4 linked regions of the Homo sapiens genome follow. The protein of the gene in region 1 purifies or fractionates together with the protein of each later gene. This does not show direct contact. Each region holds a gene or a part of one and is shown in the gene's direction. Other genes may lie near its edges. The genes, in order: PRIMPOL, SMARCAL1, CLSPN and RFWD3.

Region 1 (7,417 bases):
CTTGTCTCGAACTCCTGACCTCAGGTGATCTGCCGACCTCAGCCTCCCAAAGTGCTAGGATTACAGGTGTGAGCCACCGCGCCCAGCCAGTTCTTACAGTTCTAAGTTAACTTTTCTCTTTTCTCCATTAGCTAAAAGATAATAGTAAAACGTATATTTGAACACTTAATTTTCTCTATATATCTTTTTAGGATTATATTTAGTGTATTTTCCAATTTTTCTAAAATGATTATCACTTCTGTAAAGAAGAAAACAATACTACTGGTATTGCATTTGGAAATATTTTACTATTAAAATGTCTCATTTTCTTTTCATGTATGCACATACATATAATTTGTATAGCTCCTTTAATCAAAAAATATTCTGAGATTATTATTTAAATGATTGTCATTTGTTTTTTCTACTTGATTTTATGAATATTTGTTAAGAATTTGCCAACAATTAATTGTAAATAAAACTTCTAATGCCTATGTAAATTTCCATTATATTGACACTGGAATTTATTGTGAGTTCTATTGTTGAGCCTTTAGGTTCCCATGTTTTGATCATTTTTTAAAAGTGTTAATGTTGGCTAGGCACAGTAGCATGTGCCTGTAGTCCCAGCTACCCAGGAGGCTGAGGTAGGAGGATCACTTGAGCCCAGGAGTTCAAAGCTGCAGTGAGCTATGAATGCACCACTGCACTCCAGCCTGGGTGACAGGGTGAGACCCCATTGCTAAAAACTAAAATAAATAAATAAATAAAAATAAAATCTGTGAAAGTCATCTTTCAACAGAAATACTATAGTAAGTCTTCATTTGATGTTGATAAGTTATTGGAAACTGAACTTTAAATAATGTGTGATGAATCCAGTTGTTTTTCTCATCCATGTTAGAAGGTAGTGGTCCCTGAGTCACAGACCAGTGGTCTGTGGTGGGAACTGGACCCCACAGCAGGAGGTGAGCAGTAGGCGAGCGAGCGAGCAATACCACCTTCCCACCTCAGCTCCGCCTCCTGCCAGATCTGCAGTGGCATTAGATTCTTATAGGAGTGCAAATCCTGCTGTGAACAGCACATGGGAGGGATCTAGGTTGCACACTCCTTATGAGAATCTAATGCCTGATGATCTGAGGTGGAACAGTTTCAGCCTGAAACCAGCCCACCTTGCCCCTGCCCCACCCATGGAAAGATTGTCTTCCAGGAAACCGGTTCCTGGTGCCAGAAAGGTTGGGGACTGCCGTTATAAGGAAATGATGTTGAACAAAACAACATTATTCAAAGACCTGCTAGATGTCATTTCTCTTAGAGTTGCAGTTTCCAAGAATCTATCCATGGCCTTAAGTGAGGACTTAACTGTATTTGCCTTCATTCCCTGTTTTTCTAGGCTGGCAACTTTTTCAGCCCAAAACATGGTTAAGGTTCAGACTAAATTACCATCAACTTGCCATAATTCTTTTCCTTTTGCCTTTCTAAATATAATTTTTTTTTTGAGACAGTCTTGCTCTGTGGCCTAGGCTGGAGTGCAGTGGTGCGATCTCAGCTTACTGCAACCTCTGCCTCACAGGTTCAAGCGATTCTCCTGCCTCAGCCTCCCAAGTAGCTGGGACTACAGGTGTGTGCCACCACACCCAGATAATTTTTGTATTTTTAGTAGAGATGGGGTTTCCCCATGTTGGGGGGGCCGGTCTCAAACTCCTGACCTCATGTGATCTGCCCACCTTGGCCTCCCAAAGTGCTGGGATTACAGGCGTGAGCCACCGTGCCCGGCCACTTAAATATAATTTTAAGGAAAGATTCTCTAGAAATTAATTTTAGTAATTGTCTAAAATACATTGCTGTAGGTATCAGGTTGTACAGTTAACAGCCGTTACCCAGGAGGGTGGAAGATGGATTGTTTTTCTTCATATATATATATAAGTATATTTGTACTCTTTGAGTTCTTTAATAACATGTCTCAGAAGTAAGGTCTGAGTTTCCTACTTTTAAATGGAAGTGATACTAACACCTATCTTACGGAGTTGTCGAGAGGATTTAAAAAGTTAAAACTGCACATAAAACATTTACAGCTGTGCCCAGCCCATGACATCTGCTCAGTGAATGTTGTTGGTAGCAGTAGTAGATCCGGGATTCTGAAGTGCAAAGTGCCGTAGCAGGAGTGTAAAAATTGTGTAATTCCTGCCACACCCTATTGGCACCAGAATAAGGTCACATTCTTTCTGCCACGTATGGAGAAGTGTGAAAAGCAACATTGTTAGTTCTAGCTCATATGGGAAAAGCAACTACAGCCCGAAGTGCAGGTAATCTCCCGATTACCCAATCTCGTTTCTTTCGCAGTTTAAATATGAATCTTACAGAGGTGGAGGGTTCTTCTACTGAATACAGTTACCTTGTCTTTTGTGTATTCCAAGTAAATACCAGGTAGTTTACTTCTTGAAATAAAGGCTAAATCCTTTATGGTTATGAATGTACCTTTTCTTTCCGTTAATTTTAATCTGTTTTTCCCCTTTGCTCTCACCCCTCCTTCTTTCTTCATTTCTTCCTATAAGTCACACCTCTAAAATTGTTGTAACAAAAAATTCAAAGGCTCTTTGTGTTTGGTGAATAGAGTTATATAGTCGTCTCCTGGTGTCTGTGGGTGATTATTATTCCAAGGTCCCTGTGGATACAAAAATCTGCAGATATAAAAGGATGTACTATTTTCACGTAACCCACACGCATCCTCCCTATATAATACTGTAAATCCTTCTAGATTACCTATACCTAATATAGTGCACATGCTATATAGTTGTTATACTATATTGTTTTTAATTTGTATTATTTTTATTATTTTTATTGTTTTTTTATTTTTATTTTCACTTATTTACTTATTTTTTTGAGATGGAATCTCACTCTGTCTCCCAGGCTGGAGTGCAGTGGTGCAATCTCAGCTCACTGCAACCTCTGCCTCCTGGGTTCAAGCAGTTCTTCTGCCTCAGCCTCCCATGTAGCTGGAATTACAGGCGTTTGCCACCATGCCCAGCTAATTTTTGTATTTTTAGTAGACAGGGGTTTCACTATGTTGGCCAGGCTGGTCTCAAACTCCTGACCTCAAGTGATCGGCCCATCTCAGCCTCCCAAAGTCCTGGGATTATAGGCGTGAGCCACTGCATCTGGCCTATTTTTATTGTTTTTTAAAAAACATACTTTTGATCTGCTGTTGGTTGAATCTGCAGATAAGAAACCATGGACACAGGGCTTCAGCAGTCCTAGAGTCCCCTGATCCATTCTGTAATTAAGGATAGTATTATAAGTAATCACCAACCTACTCTTTTAAAAAAATTATTTTCTTTAATTGACAAATCATATTTTTTTTATATGTGTAGGGTTTGTGGTTTTGTGGGCAAATGTGGCATAAATGTCCTAGAACAATTATCTGCTGAACAAAGGATTTTAATGAGGAACTATTAGGAATTCAGTGTCCTTTCTGTAGCCAGGCCTTGTTAGTTCCAGTGTGATGGTGCTTTGTTTCTTTTACCTATTTCTTCTTCAGGTTCTCAGATACTTTACGAATTCTTACATGTGAGCCATCTCAGAATAAACAAAAAGGAGTTGGATATTTTAACAGTATCGGCACTTCAGGTAAATTTTTTGATGTTTGTTTTTCTTTTTGAGACAGCATCTCTCATTGTCACCCAGGCTGGAGTGCAGTGGTGCGATCTCGGCTCACTGCAGCCTCCTCCTCCCAGGCTCAAGCCATCTCCTGCCTCAGCCTCCGGAGTAGTTGGGTTTACAGGTGTGCACCATCACGCCCAGATAATTTTTGCATTTTTAGTAGAGATGAGATTTCACCATGTTGCCCAGGCTGGTCTCAAACTCCTGGGCTCAAACGATCTGTCTGCCTCAGCCTCCCAAAATGCTGGGGTTACAGGTGCAAGCCACTGCACCCAGCTACTTCAGGTAATTTTTAAAAAATAATTTCCTATCAAAATGTAAGGGTACAGAATCTGTTTTGCCTTTAAAATCTTCAGTGTTAAGTGTTCATAATCACTGACCTTTCAAAAACTACCTCTAGCCAAGCACAGGGGCTCACACCTGTAATTCCAGCACTTTGGGAGGCTGAGGCGGGAGGATCACTTGAGCCCAGGAGTTAGAGACAATCCTGAGCAACTTAGCAAAACCCTATCTCTACAAAAAATCCAAAAATTAGCCAGGAATTGTGGTGCATGCCTGTAGTCCCAGCCACTCAGGAGGCTAAGGCAGGAGGATCTCTTGAGGCCAGGAGGTTGAAGCTACAGTGAGTCTTGTTGGTGCCATTGCACTCCAGCCTGGACAGCAGAATCAGACCCTGTCTCAACCAGTCAATTAATCAATTAATCAATCAGTAATCTACTTCAGGTTTTCTATCTCAAATGGAAAAAGTATGAGAAAGATGTTTATTAAGAAGTATTATTCACTGGGCGTGGTGGCTCATGCCTCTAATCCCAGCACTTTGGGAGGCTGAGTCGGGCAGATAACCTGAGTTCAGGAGTTTGAGAACAGCCTGGCCAACATGGTGAAACCACTAAAAATATAAAAATTAGCAGGGCATGGTGGCGGGTGCCTGTAATCCGAGCTACTCAGGAGACTGAGGAGGAGAATCACTTGAACCTGGGAGGCGGAGGTTGCAGTGAGCTGAGATTGTGCCATTGCACTCCAGCATGCGCAACAAGAGTGAGACTCCATCTCAAAAAAAAAAAAAAAGTATTATTCACTAATTTCACTAATTTTCATTTTATGGTGTTTTTCAAAAAACTACAAAAATAATGTAGGTTAACAAAATGAAAATGTAAAGTTCTTTTTCACTCTTCTGTCCATGATCAAAGGCAGGTAACCACTGCAATCATTTGCTATTTAACCTAGAAGAGCGTTTCCTATATTTCCTATATATAGAGAGAGATCTTCCTCAGTCTTTTAATGGTTGTATAGTTTTTCATGGTATAGCTCTGTCATAACTTACCCATTCCTCTACTGAAGAACATAGAGTGTTTTTTTCAAAGATTTCTTACATAAGCCCTCCAGTAAACATTTTTATACACATATTTTCATATATTGTTATTTATAATAGCAAAAAACTGACAGCAATCTAAATGTACAACAAAATTGAATTGGTTATATACTATGAAATCCTCTAGCTGTTAAATTTAAATTTGTGAAGCCTGTATAATGTGGAAAACACCCATTTGTGATGTTAAAAGAAAAACTAGTCTCTAAAATTATGTGTATGGTATGATTACAAGCTTTAAAATATGGATAAATTTTCTTATGTTTATTTTCTTGTCTTATATGTATTTATAGACATTGATTTAGAGTCTGCCTCTCACATTTCCACATTAATATATTTTTCAATATTTCTCCAATTATATATATTATTTTAGTAAGTGAAACATAAACTTCATTTAAAGCAAACTAGATTCTTGTCCTTAAAAATTAAATGATACTGGCTGGGTACGGTGGCTCACGCCTGTAATCCCAGCACTTTGGGAGGCCAAGGCAGGCGGATCATGAGGTCAGGAGTTCAAGACCAGCCTGACCAATGCAGTGAAACCCCGTCTCTACTAAAAATACAAAAATTAGCAAGGCGTGGTGTTGCACGCCTGTAATCCCAGCTACTCAGGAGGCTGAGGCAGGAGAATCGCTTGAACCCAGAAGGCCGAGCTTGCAGTGAGCCGAGATCGCGCCACTGCACTCCAGCCTGGGCAACAGAGCAAGACTCTGTCTCAAGAAAAAAAAAAAATTAAATGATATTTAAAATAGGTCATTCTAAATTACTACAGTAGCTTTTTAGATAGAAAATATAATTGTATTGTCAGTACCTTCCAGCTAAAGGTCTCAGGGCACACACCTGTAGCAGGTCAGCTGAGTGTATTGCCAGGAAAGCAATGGTGAGCACACACCATGGGAAACTTCAGTAAAGTGGGGCATCTTGGGAAGAGGAGGTTGGAAAGGACCGGGAGGATTGGATTTGGGCTTGGAATGGGTGGCTTGGGGGAGTATACCAGGAAGTTTGGGGTTTGTTCTGAGTTGGGTGTTGTTAGGGACAATTCTAGGACTGGTTTTCTTAGTAAAGCTTAACTGAAAGGAAATCAGAATAGAAATTAACACTGTACTTTGTTAAAAAAAACAAACAAAAAAACCAGCAGTTGCTTCTGTTAGCTGGGATCGGGGGTGTTGGTCATGTTTGTGGTTTGGAAGATGTTCCTGTTTTGCCTGTGTTGGGACATGATTACAGAGTGGTTATCTTTGTGCCTTGAGTCCTCATGACCACAGGGGCCTTATCTGTTGTTGAAGTTCTGTGAGATTGCCTGTGTTCACAGGAGAATGCCCGGCTGAGGTAGGCGTGCCAGGCTAGTGCATGGCAACACCAAGACCTGGCTGATGGAGCTAGGCCTGTTATGGACGTGAGGGACTGCCTTTCTCTTTGCCAAAATGAAGACAGCAGTTGAAATTATTTCAAACGCTTTTTATGAAATTAGTTAACATTTGACCTAATTGAGAGGTTTGAATCTTACCTGCTTCCTTGTAGTGTCACAAACATGAATTGACTGAAATTGCAAAGAGTGAGGGAAGGCTGAGAGATTGCAAAACCCGTAATTGTGCTCAACAACATTTAATCAAAATTTAACTTCTCAACTTTCAGCTATTGTAATTTATAAACCATTCTCTCTGTTGCAGTAGAAACCATTGAAGGTTTTCAGTGTTCTCCCTATCCTGAAGTTGATCATTTTGTTCTTTCTTTGGTGAATAAAGATGGCATTAAAGGAGGTAAAGTTAATCTCATCCTTTGTTAACTGTTATATGATAGAGTGATAGTAGCTTTAGAAACATTATTTGCATTTTAGGAATTCGGCGTTGGAACTACTTTTTCCCAGAAGAATTACTGGTTTATGATATTTGTAAATATCGGTGGTGTGAAAACATTGGAAGAGCCCATAAGAGTAATAATATAATGTAAGTAATATTAATGATTTGTGTGTATTTAACCAATATTATATTTTAAATATTTATAACTTTTAAAGTTGCGAATATGAAAACTATTTTGTTTTAAAAATAAATTTAGTTGTATTAAATTTCTTTTTTTTTTCCAAGACGAAATCTTGCTCTGTCGCCCAGGCTGGAGTACAGTGGCGCGATCGCGGCTCAGTGCAACCTCCGCCTCCTGGGTTCTAGCAATTCTCCTGCCTCAGCCTCCTAAGTAGCTGGGATTACAGGCGCCTGCCACTACACCCAGCTAATTTTTGTATTTTTAGTAGAGACAAGGTTTCACCATGTTGGCCAGGCTGGTCTCGAACTCCTGACCTTGTGATCCACCCACCTCAGCCTCCCAAAGTCCTGGGATTACAGGTGTGAGCCACTGCACTCAGCTGTTGTATTAAATTTCTATTTGTTGTATATGGTTAGCATTACATAATATTTAATTTAA
Region 2 (7,417 bases), on another chromosome or scaffold:
AGAAGTCAGCATCCTGGCTGTGGTATTATACTATAGTTTTTATAGAATGTTACCACTGCAGGAAACTGGGCAAAGGCCTAAGAGGGATCTCTATTATTTCTTACAATGGCACCTGAGTATAAGCAGTCATCTCAATACCAATGTCAATTTGAAAAGAAAAGCTCTGAAGGCAGGGGCCTCTGCTGAGCTGGAACCTGGTTCTGTGCTGGAGCTGTGGCTGGGTGTGGTTTGCTGAGAAGCCCCCGGGGCTGTTGCCCACCTTGCTTCTGCCCCTTGTTCCTGCAGCACGTGCAGCACATCCGCATCGATGGCTCCACCTCATCAGCTGAGCGGGAGGACCTGTGCCAGCAGTTCCAACTGTCGGAGAGGCATGCTGTGGCCGTGCTGTCCATCACCGCTGCCAATATGGGCCTCACCTTCTCCTCGGCTGACCTGGTGGTGTTTGCTGAGCTGTTTTGGAACCCAGGGGTAAGAGACGCAGAAGACTCAGATACTCCCCAGGCATGCTCATGGCTGTGGGCAGGAAGCAGTGAGTGTCGGTCGGGGAAAGTGTGGTTTCCCTTTTATCCATTCATTATACTTCCCACAAGTCAGTTTTCACTTCCTTTAAGCACTTCTATGTTGATTGACTAGTCTCTTTTTTTCTTTTTTTGAGACAGAGTCTCTTATCACCCAGGCTGGAGTGCAGTGGCATGATCTTGGCTCACTGCAACCTCCGCCTCCTGGGTTCAAGCGATTCCCCTGCCTCAGCCTCCCGAGTAGCTAGGATTACAGGTGTGAGCCACCACGCCAGGCGATTGGCTGTTTTCTAGATTTTCACAGCAACCTGTAGGATTATCGACTCCATTTTATCAACGGGAAGGTTGAAGTCTTCCAGGGCTAGAAGGAATCTTGACTTCATGTCTCATAGGAGGAAGTTAGGGCACCGAGAGCTCAAGGGGTGAGGCAGGACTGCACTGCCATAACTGAAGAGGGCACTTGGTGGCACCAGGTTGCAGCCCAGGCCTCACGTTCCAGCCTGTGCCCCCTTTAGTAGCCATCATTGTGAGCTGCTTTAACAATGGACCTCACACAGAGTGACAGCAGTGAGGGTTTCCTGGACACCACCACTGGCCTCACCTGACCAACTGAGGACAGAGATAAGACATTTGTTTGAACTCTTAAATTTTTCTGGTAATCTCCAGAAAAGTTATATCCCCTTTAATATTTATATAATATTTAATAATATTGTGGTTTTTATTGGCTACACATAAGAGACTACATTAATAATGGGTAGACCTTGAGGGTGTAGCCATTTTATACAAGAAATAATGCTCATGATGTTAGGTGGTTTTTTTTTTCTTTTGCTTTTTTGAGACAGGGTCTTGCTCTGTCACCCAGGCTGGACTGCAGGGACTTACTGGCTCACTGCAGCCTTGATTTCCCGAGCTCAGGTGATCCTCCCACCTCAGCCTCCTGAGTAGCAGGGGACTACAGGTGCACGCCTCCATGCCTAATTTTTGTATTTTTTGTAGAGATGGGGTTTCACCATGTTGCTCAAGCTGTTCTGGAACTCCTGGGCTCAAGCAATCTGCCTGCCTCAGCCTCCCAAAGTGCTGGGATTACAGGCGTGAGCCACCACATCCAGCCCTTAAGTATTTATTATAAGGCTTACCACTATATTAAACCACCACCCTATGCCCAAATCATGGATAGCCTCTCCCTTGTGTGTGATGTTTTTATTTATTTAGAAGATAACTTTTTATTTCATACAGTGAAGAAATGGAAGTGTGCAGGCCTCCATCACCAGCCCCTCCCCATGCAGCCTGATGGCAGAGCCTGTGCCTCTTCATTTGCAGCACCTAGCTCAGTGCCCAGCACTGAACAGCCACCTGCAGATCTTCTGCTTCAGATTCCAGTTCCCCAGCCAGGGCTGTTTTGGGTTCTCTCTTTTGTTAAAGTGGCAGGTCATTTGTAGGTCTGAGATGGTAAAGTGCAGGTTATTTCTAGGTCTGAGACAGTGAAGTGCTTTGAGGAGGGAGGGTTGTGGTGGGACTGGAAATGGGGTGGAGAGGAACCATACCTGCTATGGTGGATGGAACTGCTTCAGGCCTTTACCTGCCTGTCTCAATTCCTGGACACACAGGTGCTGATCCAGGCTGAGGACCGCGTGCACCGCATTGGACAGACCAGCTCCGTGGGCATTCACTACCTCGTGGCAAAGGGCACAGCTGATGACTACCTTTGGTATGGCTTGGTTGGGTGGCCTGGCAGTTGGAGTCGAGCAAGGGTGGAAACTGATGATATGTTTACTTTGCTCCCAAAGTGCTTCTGCTTTTGCTAAGTAAGGTCTTTAAGGATCTATAGAAAATTGACTAGTGATGCCCTCCTGCTTTCATCATGACCATATTTGGCCTCCCTCACTAGCGTTCACTGGTGGCTTGCAGGGTGCATGCTGAATCTTATAGCAATAAGGGGTTGTGGCTCCTTTTGCTGCTGGTCTGAGGCAGGGAGAAGTGCTGATTATGACAAAATATAGATGGAATTTAGTTTGTAAAACACCCTGTTCCCAGCTGTGAAGGCATTTGTTAGGACAGGGTGACAGTCTTTTACCTTTTATGATGTGCATTTATCTGGTGGGCACATCTTACATTGCTGCTGCTGGACCACAGGGAGAAAGTGGCTTACCCTGGACTGTGTAGTGTACTTCGTTAGCAGAGCTGGAGTAAGATTTTCAACCCTAGGGTTTTCTGTCTGTTACCTAAGTGAAAAATCTCAAAAAGCTTCTTCCCCTTATCTCCCCCTTCCTGATACAAAATTTCTTGATTATCTCATTTGTTTCCACTGCTTGTCTCTGTTTCCAGCCTTATGACTAAGGAGTCTTCCCTTTGCAATGTGTGTGGGTCACTCCTACTTCCCCCTTTTTAGTGGATTTGTTAATTGGGCAGCTCATAATACCACCAGATTCAAAATTGTGTTGAAATGAGGCAGCATTTATTTCCTACACATCTTCCATTAGAAAGAATATTGAACCTGATGATATTCTTAGCCCTAAATTGGAGTTTTTACAAATGAGAGGGGGCAAATTTTTCAAGATGGGTGTTTGCACCTTGAGAGATGCAGAGATGTGAAACCGTAAACAAGCCGTTGTCCCATAAGAACAAGGAGGGTGGCCTCATTTTCATTAGTCTGGTGGTTCTGTGCAGGTTGTATTCACTGCAGCTCATTTCTCCCCAACAGGCCCCTGATTCAAGAGAAGATTAAAGTTCTGGCAGAAGCCGGGCTTTCTGAGACCAATTTTTCAGAAATGACAGAATCCACTGATTACCTCTACAAGGTAATGCCAGCACATGGCTCTTCACCCCTGGAGCAGAGGGAGGCATTAAGCTGTCTGCCAAGTCTTTGGGTCCTGAGTAGGAGGATGTGAATCACTCCTAGGGACCTCCCCCAGCCTAGAGCTGAAAACAATGGCCTGCAGTCATTCTCAGTTGAACCATGCATGCATCGCTTTATGGGGAAATGATGGCATTAGCTCCTACAGCTGCTGACATTCCCGCACAGGCTCTGAATGCTGCCTCTTCCAGCAGGCCATTAGAAACTGACAAAACTCCCCATGGCAAATGTTGAATTGTTTCAAAAAGTACACAGCAACACCACACATAGGGCTGCCACAGGAATGCATCCCCAGCACAGAATGGGGAGTGTTTAAAATAGGGTACTGGCTTCATAGAATATATTTTCCCTTCTGTCATTTTATTTATTCTCAGTGTCTCCCCACTTGATAGAGGGGTAAACTGAGACATGGCAGTATAGTAGGTTTGCACAAAGTCACAGGGCATGTGAAGCCAGCCCAAGGAAGAAGGCTTCCTGACTTGGCCCAGCATTCCTCCTTTGAGCTCAGCCCTTGTTGTAAAGGAGTATAAGAGGCATCCCTCCATGACCAGGCAGGCCTTGTCAAAGGTGCTGAGGGGGAAGGCTGTTGCCTCTGAACAGGACAGCCCTGGGCCCATCATGCCTGCCTGGTTTCAGTGCTGCAGCCCAGTGGCTGCCACAGACTCTTCCTCCCCCATTTCAGTGAAACACAGTGGAGTGAGCAAGAGACCCAGAGCCTTCCAAAAGCTTGTTTTCCTTCCCCAGCTTGGATTGTTGGCCAGAAGGTGAAAACCAGGAGTATGCCCTCCTCGAGCACAGCTCATGGTTGAATTGTTTCTGCCAGGAGAGTTTGAACCAGGTCTGAGCCTCATGCAGAAAGGGGCCTTACGGTAGCTTATCAGGAAAGTGAAGCACCTCCTCCTTCCTGTGAAATCACCATCAGAATATTGAGTTAGGCCACACATGGTGGTGCACACCTGTAGTCCCAGCTACTCCAGAGGAAAAGGTGAGGATCACTTGAGCCTAGGAGGTCAAGGCTGTAGTTAGCCATGATGGTCACTGTACTCTAAACTGGGCAACAGAGCAAGAGCCTGCCTCAAAAAAAAAAAAAGAGAAAGAAAAAAGTTTAAATAAATAAGAAGTTGAGTTAAATCTTATCGTTGACACCAAGACTTAAGACTCTGTGGATCTGCTCATTCACTTACATTTATTTAGCAAATAAATTCTTTCTTTGCAAGGATTTATTTGCTAAATATTGGGATAAATAAGACTCAGATCATATTTTTAAATGCAGACTGCAAATTATCCTTTCAGACATATATAGTTAATAAGCCAATTTTAAAACAACCTTATTTTTAAGCTTTTTAAAGAACTCTCCAGTTCAGCTGAATGGTAAATGGTAACAGAGCCTAGGTTATTACAAGCCTTTTGAAAAGAAATAGTCTGAGCAGGCATAGTGGCTCAAGCCTCTAATCCCACACTGAGGCGGACAGATGACTTGAGCCCAGGAGTTTGAGACCAGCCTGGGCAACATGGTGAAACCCCCATCTCTACAAAAAATACAAAAATTAGCCAGGCATGATGGCACATGCCTGTATTCCCAGCTACTCAGGAGACTGAGGCAGGAGGATTCCCTGAACCTGGGAGGCAGAGGTTGCAGTGGGCCAAGATCACACCACTGCATTTCAGCCTAGGCAACAGAGACAGACCTTGTCTCAAAAAAGAAAAAAAAGAAAGCCTATTTTTAAAGGATTCTCACTTGAACTCATTTATTCCTCCTTGCCTTTCTCTTACTCTAAATTGGTTAAGCATTTCTACCTAAAATATAAGTACAAGGTAATATAAATGAGTTTTATCAATATTTTGATCAATAACTATATCAATTTATTTTTTAATTAAGATGGGGCTGAAAATTTTATCAACTACTAGAAAAAGAAAATGTTGCTTCCAATATAGGAGACAAAAGCAGAAGAGGTTATATCTCACTGAGATAGCCTTCCTTCTGAGAGGGGAAATGAAATATTAATCTGATCTTGGAACTCGCTTCCAATTAATTATGCATGCCCCGAGTCAGCATACAGTGTTGCCATCATCATAATCAAATGCACATTAGCAGCTTTTTCTACTTGGAATAGGCTGCCTTGCAGGGTGGCGTTTCCTTGACATTGCAGTCATTCAGAAAGAGGCTGATGAGGGCATCCTGGAGGAGGACATGTGGGTTATTTGGGGGTCAGCCTTGATGATCTTTCATATCATTTCCCTCTCTGCAAGGCTGGGATCCTGAAAGGCTAGGAGATTTCGGGTGCAGGTTAATTGAATAATCTGGAGTTCTTACATGACAGGCTGTCATGATCAATTTTCAAGGAACTCTACTTCACCAATGTGGAGGGATTTGGTTAAGGAATAGTGAGGAACAGTGGCCAGGTACGTTGAGACCTAATTCTATAAAGGCCTGAAAAGCCAGGGGAGCAACTGTAGACTTGATGAGGTAGGGACAGCGGAGCCCAAAGACATGACCAAAAAAATCTTTAAAGGAGAGCCTGGGGGTAAAAATCAGCTGGCAAAGATCTGTAGGCTGTTTGAAATGGGAAGAAGCCTGAGGCAGGAAGCGCAGTTGAGCTGTTGCAAATCCATGCAGTACCAAGTGATGTGGCCCAAGTAAAGATGGTGCCTGAAGGAGAGAGGAGGGAACTAATGGGGGGAACAAACTTGCATAAGCCGAGGACTCTGTTTGCCTGGATGATTTCCACCTGGGAGACTACGAGAATGCAGGTAGACTATAAAAACTAGACTTATGGGAAGAGAAGCTGCTTTGAGAATATAGGAGATGAGAGATCATTTGATTTTTTATATTTATTTATTTATTTATTTATTTAGAGACAGGGTCTCACTCTGTCACCCAGGCTGGAGTACAGTGGCACTATGCTGGCTCACTGCAACCTCCGCCTCCCAGGCTCAAGTGATTCCCCCCATCTCAGCCTCCCGAGTAGCTGGAACTACAGGCGCATGCTGCCAACACCCGGCCAATTTTCTGTATTTTTGATAGAGATGGGGTTTTGCCATGTTGCCCAGGCTGGTCTCTAATTCCTGAGCTTAGATGATCCCCCCGCCTCGGCCTCCCAAAGTGCTGGGATTACAGGCGTGAGCCCTTGCAGCAGCCTTATTTTTATGTATTTATTTTTTTTTTGAGACAGAGTCTCACTCTGTCACCCAGGCTGGAGTGCAGTGGCGTGATGATGGCTCACTGCAACCTCTGCCTTGTGGGTTCAAGCGATTCTTGTGCCTCAGCCTCCCAAATAGCTGGGACTACAGGCACGCACCACCATGTCTGGCTAATTTTTTGTATTTTTAGTAGAGATGGGGTTTCACCACGTTGGCCAGGCTGGTCTCGAACTCCTGACCTCAGGCGATCCATCCGCCTCGGCCTCCTAAAGTGCTGGGATTACAGGTGAGAGCCACTGAGCCCAGCCAAAAGATCATTTGATTTTAAACCAGTTTAGTTTTATGAAACTGTGGGATGTCAGTGGAGATATGGAAAATATACCTCTAAATTGAAAAATGGTCAAAGTTGGAAATTTAGATGTAGGAAAAATCGGCAGAGGGGTGATAGTGATCGTGTGTTGTGGTTGTATCCACTGGGCATGGTTTTAACACTACACCATTGTCATCAATGTATAGATGCAGTTGGTGGGTATTTTGATTATTTGTAATTTAAGGTAATCAGAATAGGTACACATATCTACTTATGAATATGTTAAATGTGTGTATGTTTTTTCAACTACTTTGAAAATTAGGTATAAGCCATGGCTGAACACAGAGATTTGGAAGTTGGGGGGCTGGGCACATGGTGGCTCACACCTGTAATCCCAACATTTTGGGTAGCTGAGGTGGGCAGATCATTTGAGCTCAGGAGTTCGAGACCAGCCTGGGCAACATTTAGTGAGATCCCATCTCTTAAAAAATTATAAAAATAAAAATAAATTTAAAAATAGAGATTTAGAAGTTGAATTATACCTTAACTGACCCTTAGTAGAGAAAGGCTTTGGAGGAAGTGAGATCTTGGGTG
Region 3 (7,417 bases), on another chromosome or scaffold:
GATCCCAGCACTTTGGGAGGCCAAGGTGGGCTGATCATTTGAGGTCAGGAGTTCGAGACCAGCCTGGCTAACATGGTGAAACCCTGTCTCTACTAAAAATACAAAAAAATTAGCTGGGCATGGTGGTGCTCACCTGTAACCTCAGCTACTCAGGAGACTGAGGCAGGAGAATCGCTTGAACCCTGGAGATGGAGGTTGCAGTGAGCTGAGATCACATCACTGCACTCCAGCCTGGGCAATAGAGTGAGACTGCATCTCAAAACAAAAACAAAAAACAGCAATAACAAATAGGGAATTTTAAAAGGAGACCAAAACCCATGAAAAATTAAGCCCTTGAATAGATGAGATTATAATCTTTTTTCCTACCAGTTTAATACTTTTAAAGAATTTTTAAAGAATGTTCAAAAGAATTGCACATATTTAGAAATTTCAGGTATAAATTTCTGTCTGATTTTTTAAAGTCTGATTTTTGAAACGTTGAGGAAGAACAGTTGTGGCAGTCAATTAGTTTGGGTTAAGTTGTATGAATTTGACTCAGGAGTTAGTAGCAAGGGGTTTTTGGTTTCTCTGTGTATGTGTGGTTTCCCTCATAATTGTTGAGCTAAAAAAAACTTAGCTTATAAGTCTTAAAGGAAAGAGTTTTGAGCATGGCAAACTGACACACTGGTTGGCGTTTGGGTTTAGAACTGGAAGCCTTGAAGCAGCGTTTCTGGAAGCATGCTAATCCAGCAGCCAAACCCAGGGCTGGTCAGACAGTGAATGTGAACGTCATAGTGAAAGACATGGGCACTGATGGAAAGGAAGAGCTAAAAGCAGATGTGGTACCTGTGACTTTAGCACCTAAGAAGTTGGATGGAGCAAGCCACACAAAACCAGGTATTTGAGCCCACAGGTTTTGTTTTTTGCTTTTTGCTTTGTATTCTAACAGATCTTCAAGGCTATTGAAAACCTTATAATGAAAAGTTATAGAATCTTTTTCCTTGGAGGCTTTGCAGAGCAGTATCTCTGGCATGATTCACGTGTAGCACACCTAGAGGTGTGGGGTGGACAAGCTGGCTTTATTTTTTTTTTAGATATCATTTGTCTTATTATAAAAAACCCCATTATAGACAAATATATAGAATAAATGAAAAACTTAATCTTCTATCAGAGACAGGTTCTATAACCATATCGTGTATCCTTTTAAACTCTCTTCTTTGCACATATGTATATGTAATTTAAACAAAAACAGGCTGGGTGCAGTGGCACATGCCTGTAATCCTAGCACTTTGGAAGGACAAGGCAGGAGGATCTGTTGAGCTCAGGAGTTGGAGACCAGCCTGGGCAACATAGTGAGCCCTCATCTCTACCAAAAAAAAAAAATTATCCAGGCATGGTGGCCTGCACCTGTGGCCCCAGATACTTGGGAGGCTGAGACAGGAGGATCATTTGAGCCAGGAGGTTGAGGTTGTAATGAGTCATGATTGTGGCACTGCACTCCAGCCTAGGCGAGAGAGTGAGACCCTGTCTCAAAACAAAAAACCCAAAACAAAACAACCCACCTATAATGTGATCATAACATGCATTCTGCTTTGTGTTTTAGAAATGTATTAAGGACAGCTCTCACCCCTCCCTTGAAATCACAAGTAATATATCACATGGAAAACAGTTTTAAACACTGAAAAAAGGTATCAAATGAAAAACTAGTCTTCCCAAAGATAACTATTAACAATTTCTTGTATGTCTTTATAGGAGTATTTTTATCCATATACCGTATTTTGTGAATGTGTGTGACATTGAACATTTACTCCCTGTCAGGCATTGCTCTAGGTGCTTTATATGTTTTATCTCATTTAATCCTTACAACCCTATGAGGTAAATAACATTAGTATCCTTATTTTGTATATGAAGAAACTGATATGCAGAGCACTTAAGACACTTGCTCAAGTTTACACAGCTAATAAATGGTAGGACCAGTAGTCTAATCCAGACCACCTAACTCCAGAGCTCAGATCTACTTTATATTGCTTTTGAGGCTTTTTTTTTTTTTTTTTTTTTTCCTCTAAGACAGAGTCCTGCACTGTCACCCTGGCTGGAGTGCAATGGCACGATCTTAGCTCACTGCAACCTCTACCTCCTGGGTTCAAGTGATTCTCCTGCCTCAGCCTCCCGAATAGCTGGGATTACAGGTGCCTGCCACCATGCCTGGCTAATTTTTGTATTTTTAGTAGAGATGAAGTTTCGCTATGTTGGCCAGGCTGGTCTCGAACTCCTGACCTCGTGATCTGCCCACCTTGGCCCCGCAAAGTGCTGGGATTACAGGCGTGAGTCACTGCGCCCGGCCTTGAGGCTTTTTTTAAAATGGCTGCATAATATTCCATTGAATGAATACAACATGACTCATTAAACCATACTCGTATTGACAGATGTCTTGTTTGTTCCAGTTGTTGCTATTGCATACAGTGTTATATTATAGTGCCAGATATATGGTGGTATATTAGATGAAAATTCCTTACAGTGGAATTGTCATGATATATATCACATTTTGATATATATCATCCAGTTGTCTTTCAGAATGGTTGTACCACTCTGAATCACAGTGTATGAGTTCCTGTTTCCTCTCAATAGGTATTATCAAACCTTCTAATTTTTGCCAGGCTAACATGTCGAAAATGTATCTCGTTATTTTGATTTGTAGCTCTTCAATTAGAAGTGAGATTAAGCATTACTTTTAATTTATTAACAATATATGTTTATTTTTCGTGAACTGCCAGTTCATATCATTAGCTCATTTTACTCGAGTCGTTTCTCTTTTTCTTTAATATAGGTAAATTTATCAATGTTTTTCTTCATGGCTTTTGAGCCACAGACTTGAAGCTCTACTCCCTACCCACCTTTTCTCTCTTTTGAACAATTATTTTATAATCCCTGAGTAGTATACTATCTAGGGTGCAGAAGTTCTCTTTGATACTTCAATTCATAATAATACTCTTGTGTTCAAATAACAAAAAAGCCCAGAATACTAGAGTCTCAGATTTTCCTTTTGGGATGTGACTAGAATATTTCTGGAGTTGCCTAAAATGCATACCTAATTATTGTATTATGTCTAAAGCATTTCTACATATTTCTGTTCAGGTGAAAAGCTTCAGGTGTTAAAAGCTAAACTGCAAGAAGCAATGAAACTCCGAAGGTTTGAGGAGCGCCAGAAGCGCCAAGCACTGTTTAAATTAGATAATGAAGATGGGTTTGAGGAAGAGGAGGAGGAAGAGGAAGAAATGACAGATGAGTCTGAGGAAGATGGAGAAGAGAAGGTAGAGAAAGAAGAGAAAGAGGAAGAACTAGAGGAAGAGGAGGAGAAAGAAGAGGAGGAGGAAGAAGAAGGAAATCAGGAGGTTTCTGGCAATTACGTTGTTTTGTTACCTTGTCATGGTGAATATGAGAGAAAAAGTCAGACTTGAAAAAGAGTATAATAAGCATGTTCAATTGTATAAGAGGTTTTAGGGGCATGATGAGGGTAACTACCTCATATATCCCTAAATCTTAGGAACTTCAGTTCTGTCAGTACCACTGAATATCTGTAGATCATCATTATATATCTGAATACAGATATTCAGTGGTACTGACAGAATACCATTGCCTGGGCTTCCACCTGTTTATATATTTTAATATAATAATGCTAATATTAAAAATGGCTTTGTATTCGTAGGAAATTTTATCTTTGTTGTTTATTTAGGTTTCTCTAGCAGATTAAAAAGCAGTCCTAACCTTGGCTAGATTGAGGCCTGGAGTAAATTCTTAGGGAGGTAGAGGCCTTTCTGAGTTATTTTCGTTCTTTGTAGAAGAAGGCATTTGTAGAAGGGCCTCTTGCCCTTGTTCCGTAGTACTGTTTTCTGCCTAGGGAAAACAGGTGATGATACGATTGTTAAGTATTAAAAAACTTTCCTTTTTGGGCCGGGCAGGGTGGCTCATGCCTGTAATCCTAGCACTTTGGAAGGCTGAGGTAGGTGGATCACCTGAGGTCAGGAGTTTGAGAACAGCCTAGCCAACATCGTGAAAATCCATCTCTACTAAAAATACAAAAATTAGCTGTGTGTGGTGGCACACACCTGTAATCCCAGCTACTCAGGCAGGAGAATTGCTTGAACTTGGGCAGTGAAGGTTGCAGTGAGCCAAGATTGTGCCACTATACTCTAGCCTGAGCGACAGAGCAAGACTGCATCTCAAAAAAAGAAAAAAAAAAAAAAACTTTCCTTTTTGTATGCTGGGATCACTTTATTTTATTTTATTTTATTTATTTATTTAAATTTTTTTGAGATGAGGGTCTCACTATGTTGACCAGACTGGTCTCGAACTCCTGGCCTCAAGTGATCCTCCCATCGTTGTGGCCTCCCAAAGTGCTGGGATTACAGGCATGAGCCACCATGCCCAGCAACTTGAGTTATTATTTAATTTTGGGTAAAGGAGAAAGAAAGCAATGGCTGAGCTATACAGCCTGTCTCAGTCTGTGCTTGGTTTGAGATCAGTAGTCAGCCTGCAATCTTAGACTGATTAATTAACCTCTTACTGCCTCAATAAAATGATAATCCAGTCGTCCTTTATAATCTTAGCAATTTCGGGAGGGTAGAAGGTAAAAAAAAAAAATAGAAAAAAGTTCTAGAAGTGTCAGGGAAAATTATGTTGATAATGGTCATATGGAACTTCCTTCAAGTTTACCTTTTTGAATTTAAGATGTGATCTGTAACCAATCAGCCATATTTCAGGCTACCAGTGTATTTGCTTTTAAATGTTTTGACTTGTATTTTTTGTTTTGTGGTGGCCTGATTGGTAAAGACTGCAGAATTCCTTCTTAGTAGTGAAGAAATAGAAACAAAAGATGAAAAAGAAATGGATAAAGAAAATAATGATGGCAGTAGTGAAATTGGCAAGGCAGTTGGCTTCCTCTCTGTTCCCAAGTCTCTCTCATCAGATTCTACTTTACTTCTGTTTAAGGACAGCTCTTCCAAGATGGGGTAAGTGATTCTCTCTAAGAAAACTTAAAATTGCCTTGGATTTGCCCCTCCTGTAAAAACTAGGAACAGATACTGAACCAATTTACTTTCTTATTTTGCAGTTACTTTCCTACTGAAGAAAAATCAGAAACAGATGAAAACTCAGGCAAGCAGCCTAGCAAACTGGGTAAGTAGTGATTCTTGTGCAGAACTTAACATTTCTTTTGTCCCTCAGCTTTGATATTTAAGGACTGCAGTACGGTAAGTTTCCATGTTTTTAAATCTGGTCACTTCCCAGTTTCATATGTAGCTATGAAAAGGGTTTATGAATTAGAATATTTTTCTTGGTCTATTTTTTGCAGTTTATTTATAGTAGACCATGGTACATAATGTCCTTAGTGAATGTGTGTTGATTGAGTGAGCAATGAAATGTTTCTGTATGTAGATCAAAGGAAGACGTATAATTGATTGGACAATGAAGAGTGTGATCATAGGCATTAGGAAGGATAAGAGAAAGAAGAGAACTTTCGGCCAGGCGCAGTGACTCACGCCTGTAATCCCAGCACTTTGGGAGGCTGAGGCAGGCGGATCATGAGGTCAGGAGATCGAGACCAGCCTGGCTAACATGGTGAAACCCTGTCTCTACTAAAAATATAAAAAATTAGCCAGGTGTGGTGGCACGCGCCTGTAGTCCCAGCTACTTGGGAGGGTGAGGCAGGAGAATCGCTTGAACCTGGGAGGCGGAGGTTGCAGTGAGCCGAATTCACGCCACTACACTCCAGCTGGGGTGACAGAGCGAGACTGTCTCAAAAAAAAAAAAAAAAAAAAAAAAAGAACTTTCAAGTGTCACTTAGCTCAGAGTAATAAGCCCTGATTATATAATGCTATCTTAGTACTGTAATTTACCTTTAACTTAATGTTTTGGAACATATAACTTGAGGGGTTTGCCTATGAATTTTATCTGACAGTTTCATCCTCAACTCTTTTTCCTAAACAAATCCACCTTATTTCTGTAATCATGTGCTTAAAAGGTGTTTCTCTTTCTTTAGATGAGGATGATTCATGTTCATTGCTAACAAAGGAGAGCAGCCACAATAGCAGCTTTGAGCTGATTGGCTCCACGATTCCATCCTATCAGCCTTGCAACAGACAAACAGGCCGTGGGACCAGTTTTTTCCCTACAGCAGGAGGATTCAGATCTCCTTCCCCTGGGCTATTTCGAGCCAGTTTGGTCAGCTCAGCTTCTAAGGTAAGATGGTAATGGTTTTTCTAATCTCCTCCTCTCTTTGCTTCCCACATTGCTAAATAAAGTTTGTCCCAGCCAACCAACTCCCACCACGTTGGTACTGAGCTTATGTGTGTTCAGTTTAAAAAATCCACCCCCTTTGTGTATTAAAAACAAGCTTCATCCAGTATTCTTACTTTCTTGGAGGTATTTTTCTTTATGCTTCTCATGGCTGTGTATTGTCCCCCTCAACTACAATTTCCTGAGAGTAGCTTAAATATTGCAAATAGCAACTTTTGTGGTTGTCATGACAATGACTGACATTTGTAAAATGTTTTGTTATTGTTTGTTTTTGTTTGTGTGCCAGAGTTCAGGGAAACTGTCTGAGCCTTCACTTCCCATAGAGGATTCCCAGGATCTGTATAACGCCTCCCCAGAGCCTAAGACACTTTTCCTAGGAGCAGGAGACTTCCAGTTCTGTTTAGAAGATGACACTCAGAGCCAACTGTTGGATGCAGATGGGTAGGTAGTTTTGTGTTTCTGTGGGCGGGAATGGTGCTGGGTACTGCTTAATTTTGTTTAAAAATAAGTGAGCTTCTGTCACTCCATCTGTGCTTTCTCTTCTGAGAAAGAGAAGGTGTACAGACCATTAGTATTACATTCTATAAGTTTGAACAAAGTCTGTCCAGAAAATAAACATAAATAGCTCTTGCTAACATTCTGGTCCTTCAATTTCTGTCTTATTTGAAATGCATAGATCTTGTATTGTAAGGTCATCAAATTTCCCTGTATCCATCCTGCTATGTTATTATTGTTGGGTAAGGTTGAGAATTCACAGACTGGTGGCACATTACAGGACATAATGCCAAGCCCTGCTCTAGCATCATCTGAAGCTAAAAGTTATCCTTTACACTTTACCTTCTGAGTAACATTTTATTCTTTCACAAAACTTTTCCCTCCCTCTTTAGATTAACACAAGCCTAAAGTTTGAATCTTTTGCTTTCTGGTTTGAGATTCAGCTTTTAACTGGTGTAGGAAATGAATTCAGAGGTTTTTCACCCCCTACTTTGCCATTTCTCTGAGGAATTTTTTTTTATTTTTTTTTTTGAGGCAGAGTCTTGCTCTGTCGCCCAGGCTGGAGTGCAGTGGCGCGATCTCGGCTCACTGCAAGCTCCACCTCCTGGGTTCACGCCCTTCTCCTGCCTCAGCCTCCCGAATAGCTGGG
Region 4 (7,417 bases), on another chromosome or scaffold:
AAAACTAGGTGGTAGTTTTCAAACTGATACAATGGAATTAAAGATAGGAAACATGAAAAGAACATAGGTGCTTAATAAATATTTGTTGAATACGCTAACATGATGGAATTAGAGATGGAAAACAAAAATAATGAAAGGGATAGGATAAAGTTTGCTCAGCCTTTTTGGAAACATTAGGTAAGTTTCCATTTTGAGTTAGTAACAGTTAATTTTGCAAGTGTAAAAAATGTCCTTTCTCTATTTATCCCTTGTAACTGTTGATGCTGTGAAAGATTAATATTGCCTGCTAAAATTAGATACTGCATTATATGCATTTGATTTTGGTGAATGTCCATATTCAGCTTGAGAGAACTGCAAAGTGTCTGAGAGATTACTTTTAGACCCAGTAGTTTAATCTCCTTGGTTTATAGATCTTTCTATTTTGGAAGATACTACTATGATCACAGGACTTCATGTTTTCTAAGGGCAAACCGGAAAACTGGTTATAAATGCTTGTTATAGAGAGGAAAGTCCATTACCAAACACTTCTGACTTAAGTAGTTAAAATCTTCTCTTGAAGCTTCTCAGTCTTGCTAAGAATGATATTAAACATAAAATCAGAAAGATTAAATATGATTCTGTCACCTACATAGCATGTTTTATCTATTTTATTAATACTTTTTACAAATACTGTTTCTCTAGTGATGGCTCATGAAGCAATGGAATATGATGTTCAGGTGCAGTTAAATCATGCCGAACAACAGCCAGCTCCTGCTGGCATGGCCAGCAGCCAAGGGGGACCAGCCCTCCTCCAGCCTGTTCCTGCTGATGTGGTCAGCAGCCAGGGGGTACCATCCATCCTCCAGCCAGCTCCTGCTGAGGTGATCAGCAGCCAAGCGACACCACCCCTGCTCCAGCCTGCTCCGCAACTGTCTGTTGACCTGACAGAAGTGGAGGTCTTGGGAGAAGACACTGTGGAGAACATCAATCCAAGAACTTCAGAACAACATAGGCAGGGATCTGATGGTAATCACACCATCCCAGCATCTTCGTTGCATTCAATGACCAACTTCATCAGCGGACTGCAGAGACTTCATGGCATGCTGGAATTCCTGAGACCTTCATCTTCAAACCACAGTGTAGGGCCAATGAGAACAAGAAGGAGGGTATCTGCTTCACGGAGGGCAAGAGCCGGAGGGTCTCAGAGGACAGACAGTGCCAGGTAAATAAATATATGGATAAGTCTGTGATCATTGCTGTACTAGAAATTATGAAACTGAGGCTCTGCCATTCAAGGACTGACAGTGTGACTTTTGGCAAGTCAGGTAACTTCTGACCCCCAGTTCCTCATAGGTGGAAATAAAAGTGCTTGCCTTACTTCACAAAGTAATGAAGGGATAAGTTAAACTGTTGTGCCTTGAAAACTAGGTGGTAGTTTGTTGGCAATCTCTGTAGAGATTGGCTGTTGTTCAGATTGTGTCTTGTACACCAAAAATTCTTTCTTCACTTGCAAGTCTCTACTCACCCAAATTCATTATTCACTGGCATTCCACCTGGGGGCACAATTAATTAATTTTCTTTCATAGTCTTGGTTTGAACTTGCCTCTTGAAGGGCTTAGCTGTCAAGTCTTGACAGGGTTATTATGAAGAATAACAATTGCCTATACCCTGTCCGTTTTTTGGTTTTTTGTTTTTGTTTTTGAGACAGCGTCTCACTCTGTCGTCCAGGCTGGATTCCCGTGGCACAATCTTTGCTCACTGCAACCTCCATCTCCCAGATTCAAGCGATTCTCCTGCCTCAGCTTCCCCAGTACCTGGCATTACAGGCGCGTGCCACCACACCTAACTAATTAAACCTGTCTGTTTTTGGTTTTGTTTTGTTTTGAGATGGAGTCTCACTCTGTCGCCCAGGCTGGAGCGCAGTGGTGCGATCTCCGCTCAGAGAGGGCTTTGTTCAGGGTCTCATAACTATAGAATAGAGGAGTTAGCACTGATATTGGAGCCTGGATCTGCCCTGTTTTCTACATAGGCAGATGGAGGAAGCTTCGACGAAATCCCTTTGTTTTCTCTTTCTTCTTGTTTTTATTATTGTTATTTTTGAGACAGGGTCTCACTGTGCTCCCCAGGCTGGAGTGCAGTGGTGCAATCACAGCTCACTGCAGCCTCGACCTCCCCAGGCTTAGGCGATCTTCCTACCTCAGCCTCTTGATGATTAACTGGGACTACAGGCATACGCAACCATGCCGATGTTTTCTAACACTGTGAAAATATTGAGATGATACTAAAAAGTGGTAGCTAGGTCATCTATTACCCATGTTTTACAAATGAGGAAGCTGATGGGATAATTTGTGATTTGGTTGTGATAAGGCTGGAATTGGAATTGTGCCTTCTGTATCTGGATTCAGCATTCTTTTTCATGGATCCTGCTGATTTTAATGTTGGGGCTTGCCATGACTGTGGCTCCAGTGTCTGTAGTGCCCATCAAGGATGACAGATGCCTAGTTCTGTGTTGACAAGAGTTGCAAATGCATATTACTCTGGGTTTTTTTTTTGTTTTTAAGACAAGAGTCTTGCTCTGTCACTCAGGCTGGAGTGCAGTGGCGCAGTATCAGCTCACCAGGACCTCTGGCTCCCGGGTTCAAGCGATTCTTGTGCCTCAGCCTCCTAAGTAGCTGGGATTGCAGGCGTGCACCAGCAGGCTTGGCTATAGTCTGTTGTTTTAAGATGTCATTACTCACGTTATAAAGGCAGGGTAAGATTTCATACATTTGTGTTATAGGTGAAGGCACCTTATGGTGTAATTTGGGGACCCTCCCAAAGTAAATGGGCTAACTTTCCATGGTTGAGAGTTGTGAGTGGTGTTTCCAGGAGCTGGCTGACTGTCAGGAGGCCTCTTGCAAGTCCTCAGTCTTGCTTATCCATGCACTCATTCTTGTTGGGGGACGCAGAGTGGATTCCTCTTGGTCAAGCACAGTGACTTGTATTAACCAACTTAAGGGTGACACTTATAAACCAGATGCCAACTTACAAAGAAAAACAGAACCACTAGAGAGCCAAACAGAAGCCAAACTCTAGTGAGAAAATTGCTTGATGTGGCTGGGCATAGTGGCTCACGCCTGTAATCTCAGAACTTTGAGCGGCCAAGGCAGGCGGATCCCTTTAGGCCAGGAGTTCGAGGCCAACATGGTGAAACCCCATCTCTACTAAAAATACAAAAAATTAGCCGGGCGTGGTGGCACACACCTGTGGTCCCAGCTACTTGGGAGGTTAAGGCATGAGAATTCCTTGAACCTAGGAGGCGGAGCTTGCAGTGAGCCAAGATCTTGTCACTGTAATCCAGCCTGGGTGACAAGAGTGACTCTCTGTCTCAAAAAAAAAAAAAAAAAATTATAGAATCTGCTCAGGGAATGAGTTATACAGAATTTAAATGTTGAAAGATGTCAGTCAAGCTATTTGGCAGCCATAATCTGTCTCCACAAAGGGAATAACCTAAACGGTCAGGAAGTGTGCAGTTCAGTGGAAATTACATCAGTTCTGGAGCCAGGTAAATGTGATTAAAACTTTTTTCCCTGAAGTATGACCTTTCCCAGGACTAATCGCTTATAACTTCTGAATTTCTTGAGATGAATTTCTCAGTGTGGTGTTTGACATTTACTCATCTGACAGACTGTCCCTGGGCCAGGTGTTGAAAGCCTGGGCCAAGGTGAACAGCTTTTGACTCACAGTCAGCCAAGAAGCCAAAGCTATGGAAAGCTAAGTAGTGAGCTTATTCTTCCCAACAGGCTTAGCTGAGGTCACAAACTCCTTTCTGATTTGTTTGGGGCGGTTTCATTCTGGCAGTGGGGGTCATCACTCATTCATCAAATATTGATAACACTCCTCTGTGTGAGAGACTAAACTTTGCCCTAGATATATTGGTGAATAACACAGATCACAATATTGTTTTCCTGGAGCATACGGAGTCTAGGACTACAGAGAGTAGGGAAGGAGCAAAATTCAAAGTTGGTAAGTGCAGGGAAGGAGGAGAATTTCTTGGGTTCTAAATCTGTGCTCCCAAAGAGAAACCCTAGCACTGCTTCCTGTTGGTTTTCACAGTTCCCCTTTCCTGTGTTCTTGCCTGACTTTGGAAATTCTTTGCTACATAAAAGCAATATTAAAGAGTGATTTTTTTTAATCGTCTATCACTTTTTTACTGGGTTCTATGTAGAATTCTATTGATATACGTGTCAACACCCTAACTCTAGTATGTATTTGATTAAATCTTCTTATGAAATGCTTTTCTTATGTGTTTAGTCTCATGGTAGCTATAGCTGCTGTTCACTTAGAATCTCAAGAAATGGAGTTGGTAAACTTGCTTAGCACTGTCTAAAAAGAAAACCTGGCTAGGCGCAGTGGCTCACACCTGTAATCGCAGCATTTTGGGAGGCTGAGGCAGGCGAATCACCTGAGGTCACGAGTTCGAGACCAGCCTGGCCAACATGGTGAAACCCTGTCTACTAAAAATACAAAAATTAGTCGGGTGTGGTGGCGGGTGCCCATAATCCCAGCTGCTCAGGAGACTGAGGCAGGAGAATCGCTTGAACCCGGGAGGTGGATGTTGCAGTGAGCCGAGATTGCGCCACTACACTCCAGCCTGGGCCGCAGAGCGAGACTCCGTCTCAAAAAAAAAAAAAAAGAAAAAGAAAACCTGGGTGATGTCAGTGAAAATGGCAGAGTAAGGACCACAGAGAATTATCTCCATGGAAGTAGTGAAACAACTGGCAGAATTTGTCAGGATCAACTTTTTCATAATTCAGGAAACTGACCAAATGCTTATAGCAATCCAGGGAGTGATTATTAAAGAAAAACAGCCGAATCTCATTGAGCTCTATGGCATTCCTTATTCTTGTCACCTTCTCCAGCTCCTTGATAGTTGTGAAAAGCATCTGCCTGTAATCATAGTAAAAACCAACAGCCTGGCAGGCACCAGAGGGATTGGAGCACCTTCAAAGCCTCATTCCCAGAGAATTATCTTTATATGACCTGTTGGTGGTTCTCTGGAAAACCCCATTTGCAAGACTACTCTTGACTCTGAGCAATGCAGAGTGTGAAAAGCCTAAATCATTTTCCCTGGGGCCTGCCTGAGGTAATGGATATTCAGTGGGATAAGCAATAAACTAACCAATAAGAAGGAAAGGAAAATCTAGGAATGAGATCAATTCAGTCACATCTTCTAAGTCTAGTTCTCTTGCTGTTTCTAGCACATCTGCAGTTACTTTCTTAACTGAAGTCTTGAGCCCGGCAAAAGTCATCCATAAGAGTTGACATCAACTTCTTCTAAATTCCTGATAATGTTGATATTTTGGCCTCCTCCCATGAATCATGAATGTTCTTAGGGGCATCAAGGATGGTGGATCCCCAAGGCACAGTGGCTCATGCCTATAATCCCAGCACTTTGGGGGGCTGAAGCAGGCAGATTGCCTGAGCTCAGGAGTTCAAGACCAACCTGGCCAACATGTTGAAACCTTGTCTCTACAAAAAAATACAAAAATTAGCTGGGCATGGTGTGCATGCCTGTAGTCCCAGCTACTTAGGAGGTTGGGGTGAAAGGTTCCAATGAGCCAATATCATGCCACTGCACTCCAGCCTGGGTGACAGAGCCAGACCCTGTCTCCAAAAAGAAAAAAAAAGAATGGTGGATCATTTCAAGGTTTTCAATTTACTTTGTCCAGATCCATTAGAGGAATCACTGGCAGCTATCATCTTAAGAAATTAAAAAAAATAAAATAAAAAAAGCTTTTCCCCACAGCTAAGAGTCACAACAAAATATTTCTTTTCTTTTCTTTTTTTTTTTTTTTTTTTTTTTGGCAAGACAAGGTCTCACTCTGTTGCCCAGGCTGGAGTACAGTGGTGTGATCATGGCTCACTGCAGCCTCAACCTCCCCGGGCTCAGGTGATCCTCGATCCTCCTGCCTCAGCCTACAGAGTAGCTGGGACTAAAGGCACAAGCCGCCACACCCAGCTAATTTTTTCTGTTTTTTGTAGAGATGTTATTTCATTAAAGTACTGAGATTACAGGTGTGAGCCACTGTGTCTGGCCTTATTTCTTAAATAATAAGTCTTGAAAGTTGGGCTGCAGAATATGTTATATTAACAGACATGAAAATAACATTAATCACCTTCAGAGCTCTTGGTTTACTGGGTGCATTGTCAATGAGCAGTAATATATTTAAAGGAATCCTTTTTTCTGAATAGTAGGTTTCAACAGTGGGCATAAGTTGTAAGACATACTCTAAACAGATAAGCTGTTATCCAGGCTTTGTAGTTCCATTTAGAGAGCACAGACATAGGCCGGGTGTGGTGGCTCACGCCTGTAATCCCAGCACTTTGGGAGGCCGAGGTGGGCAGATCACGAGGTCAGGAGATGGGTGAGACCATCCTGGCTAACACGGTGAAACCCCGTCTCCACTAAAAATACAACAAATTAGCCAGGCGCCACTGCACTGCAGCCTGGGTGACAGAGCGAGACTCCATCTCAAAAAAAAAGAGAGAGAGCACAGACAGAATAAATTTAGCATAATTTTCAAGCACCCTAGGATTTTCAGAACAGTAAAAGAGCATCGGCTTCAGCTGGGCATGGTGGCTCATGCCTGTAATCCCAGGACTTTGGGAGGCCGAGGCGGGCGAATCACGAGGTCAGGAGATCGAGACCATCCTGGCTAACAGGGTGAAACCTCATCTCTACTAAAAATACAAAAAAAAAAAAAATTAGCCAGGCGTGGTGGCGGGTGCCTGTAGTCCCAGCTACTCGGGAGGCTGAGGCAGGAGAATGGCGTGAACCCGGGAGGCAGAGCTTGCAGTGAGCCGAGATCACGCCACTGCACTCTAACCTGGGCGACAAAGTGAGACTCTGTCTCAAAAAAAAAGAGCATCGGCTTCAACTGAAGTCACCAGCAGCATTATCCCCTAACAAGAGAGTCAGCCTGTCCTTTGAGCCTTGAAGCCAGGCATTGACTTCTCTGTAGCTGCAAAAGTCCTACGTGGCATCTTCCAATAGAGGGGTGTTTCATCTACACTGAGAATCTTTTTAGTGTAGATACTTTCATCAATTGTCTTAGCTAGATATTCTGGATAACTTGGTACAGTTTCAATGTCAGCGCTTGCTGCTGCTTCATGCACTTTATGGAGACAGTATCTTTTCTTAAACCTCATGAACCAGCCTCTGCTTTCTTCCAACTTCCTGCAGCTTCCTCACTTCTCAGCTTTCACAGAATTAAAGAGAGTTGGGGCCTTCCTCTGGATTAGGGATTCACTTAAGGGAATGTTGTGGCTGGTTTGATCTTCTTTCCAGACCACTAAAACTGTCTCCATATCAGCAATAAGGCTGTCTTATCATTCATGTATTCGCTGTTGTAGCGCTTAATTTTCTTCAGAAACTTTTCCTTTGCATTCACCACTT

Evidence for each region.
Region 2: the proteins of PRIMPOL (region 1) and SMARCAL1 purify together in Homo sapiens (affinity purification with mass spectrometry; one large-scale study listed by BioGRID and IntAct). This does not show direct contact.
Region 3: the proteins of PRIMPOL (region 1) and CLSPN purify together in Homo sapiens (affinity purification with mass spectrometry; one large-scale study listed by BioGRID and IntAct). This does not show direct contact.
Region 4: the proteins of PRIMPOL (region 1) and RFWD3 purify together in Homo sapiens (affinity purification with mass spectrometry; one large-scale study listed by BioGRID and IntAct). This does not show direct contact.

What each region holds. Positions count from the first base shown.
Region 1 is NC_000004.12:184,678,740-184,686,156, forward strand, and holds part of PRIMPOL (DNA-directed primase/polymerase protein), read left to right. Parts: intron 1-3,508; coding exon 3,509-3,597; intron 3,598-6,669; coding exon 6,670-6,759; intron 6,760-6,836; coding exon 6,837-6,945; intron 6,946-7,417. UniProt on the Homo sapiens protein: DNA primase and DNA polymerase required to tolerate replication-stalling lesions by bypassing them.
Region 2 is NC_000002.12:216,474,984-216,482,400, forward strand, and holds part of SMARCAL1 (SWI/SNF-related matrix-associated actin-dependent regulator of chromatin subfamily A-like protein 1), read left to right. Parts: intron 1-285; coding exon 286-468; intron 469-2,125; coding exon 2,126-2,226; intron 2,227-3,219; coding exon 3,220-3,316; intron 3,317-7,417. UniProt on the Homo sapiens protein: ATP-dependent annealing helicase that binds selectively to fork DNA relative to ssDNA or dsDNA and catalyzes the rewinding of the stably unwound DNA. Rewinds single-stranded DNA bubbles that are stably bound by replication protein A (RPA).
Region 3 is NC_000001.11:35,747,204-35,754,620, reverse strand, and holds part of CLSPN (claspin), read left to right. Parts: intron 1-684; coding exon 685-876; intron 877-3,114; coding exon 3,115-3,371; intron 3,372-4,809; coding exon 4,810-4,988; intron 4,989-5,089; coding exon 5,090-5,154; intron 5,155-6,016; coding exon 6,017-6,216; intron 6,217-6,559; coding exon 6,560-6,714; intron 6,715-7,417.
Region 4 is NC_000016.10:74,654,716-74,662,132, reverse strand, and holds part of RFWD3 (E3 ubiquitin-protein ligase RFWD3), read left to right. Parts: exon of another isoform or gene 1-177; intron 178-679; exon of another isoform or gene 680-681; 5' UTR 682-683; coding exon 684-1,201; intron 1,202-7,417. UniProt on the Homo sapiens protein: E3 ubiquitin-protein ligase required for the repair of DNA interstrand cross-links (ICL) in response to DNA damage. Plays a key role in RPA-mediated DNA damage signaling and repair.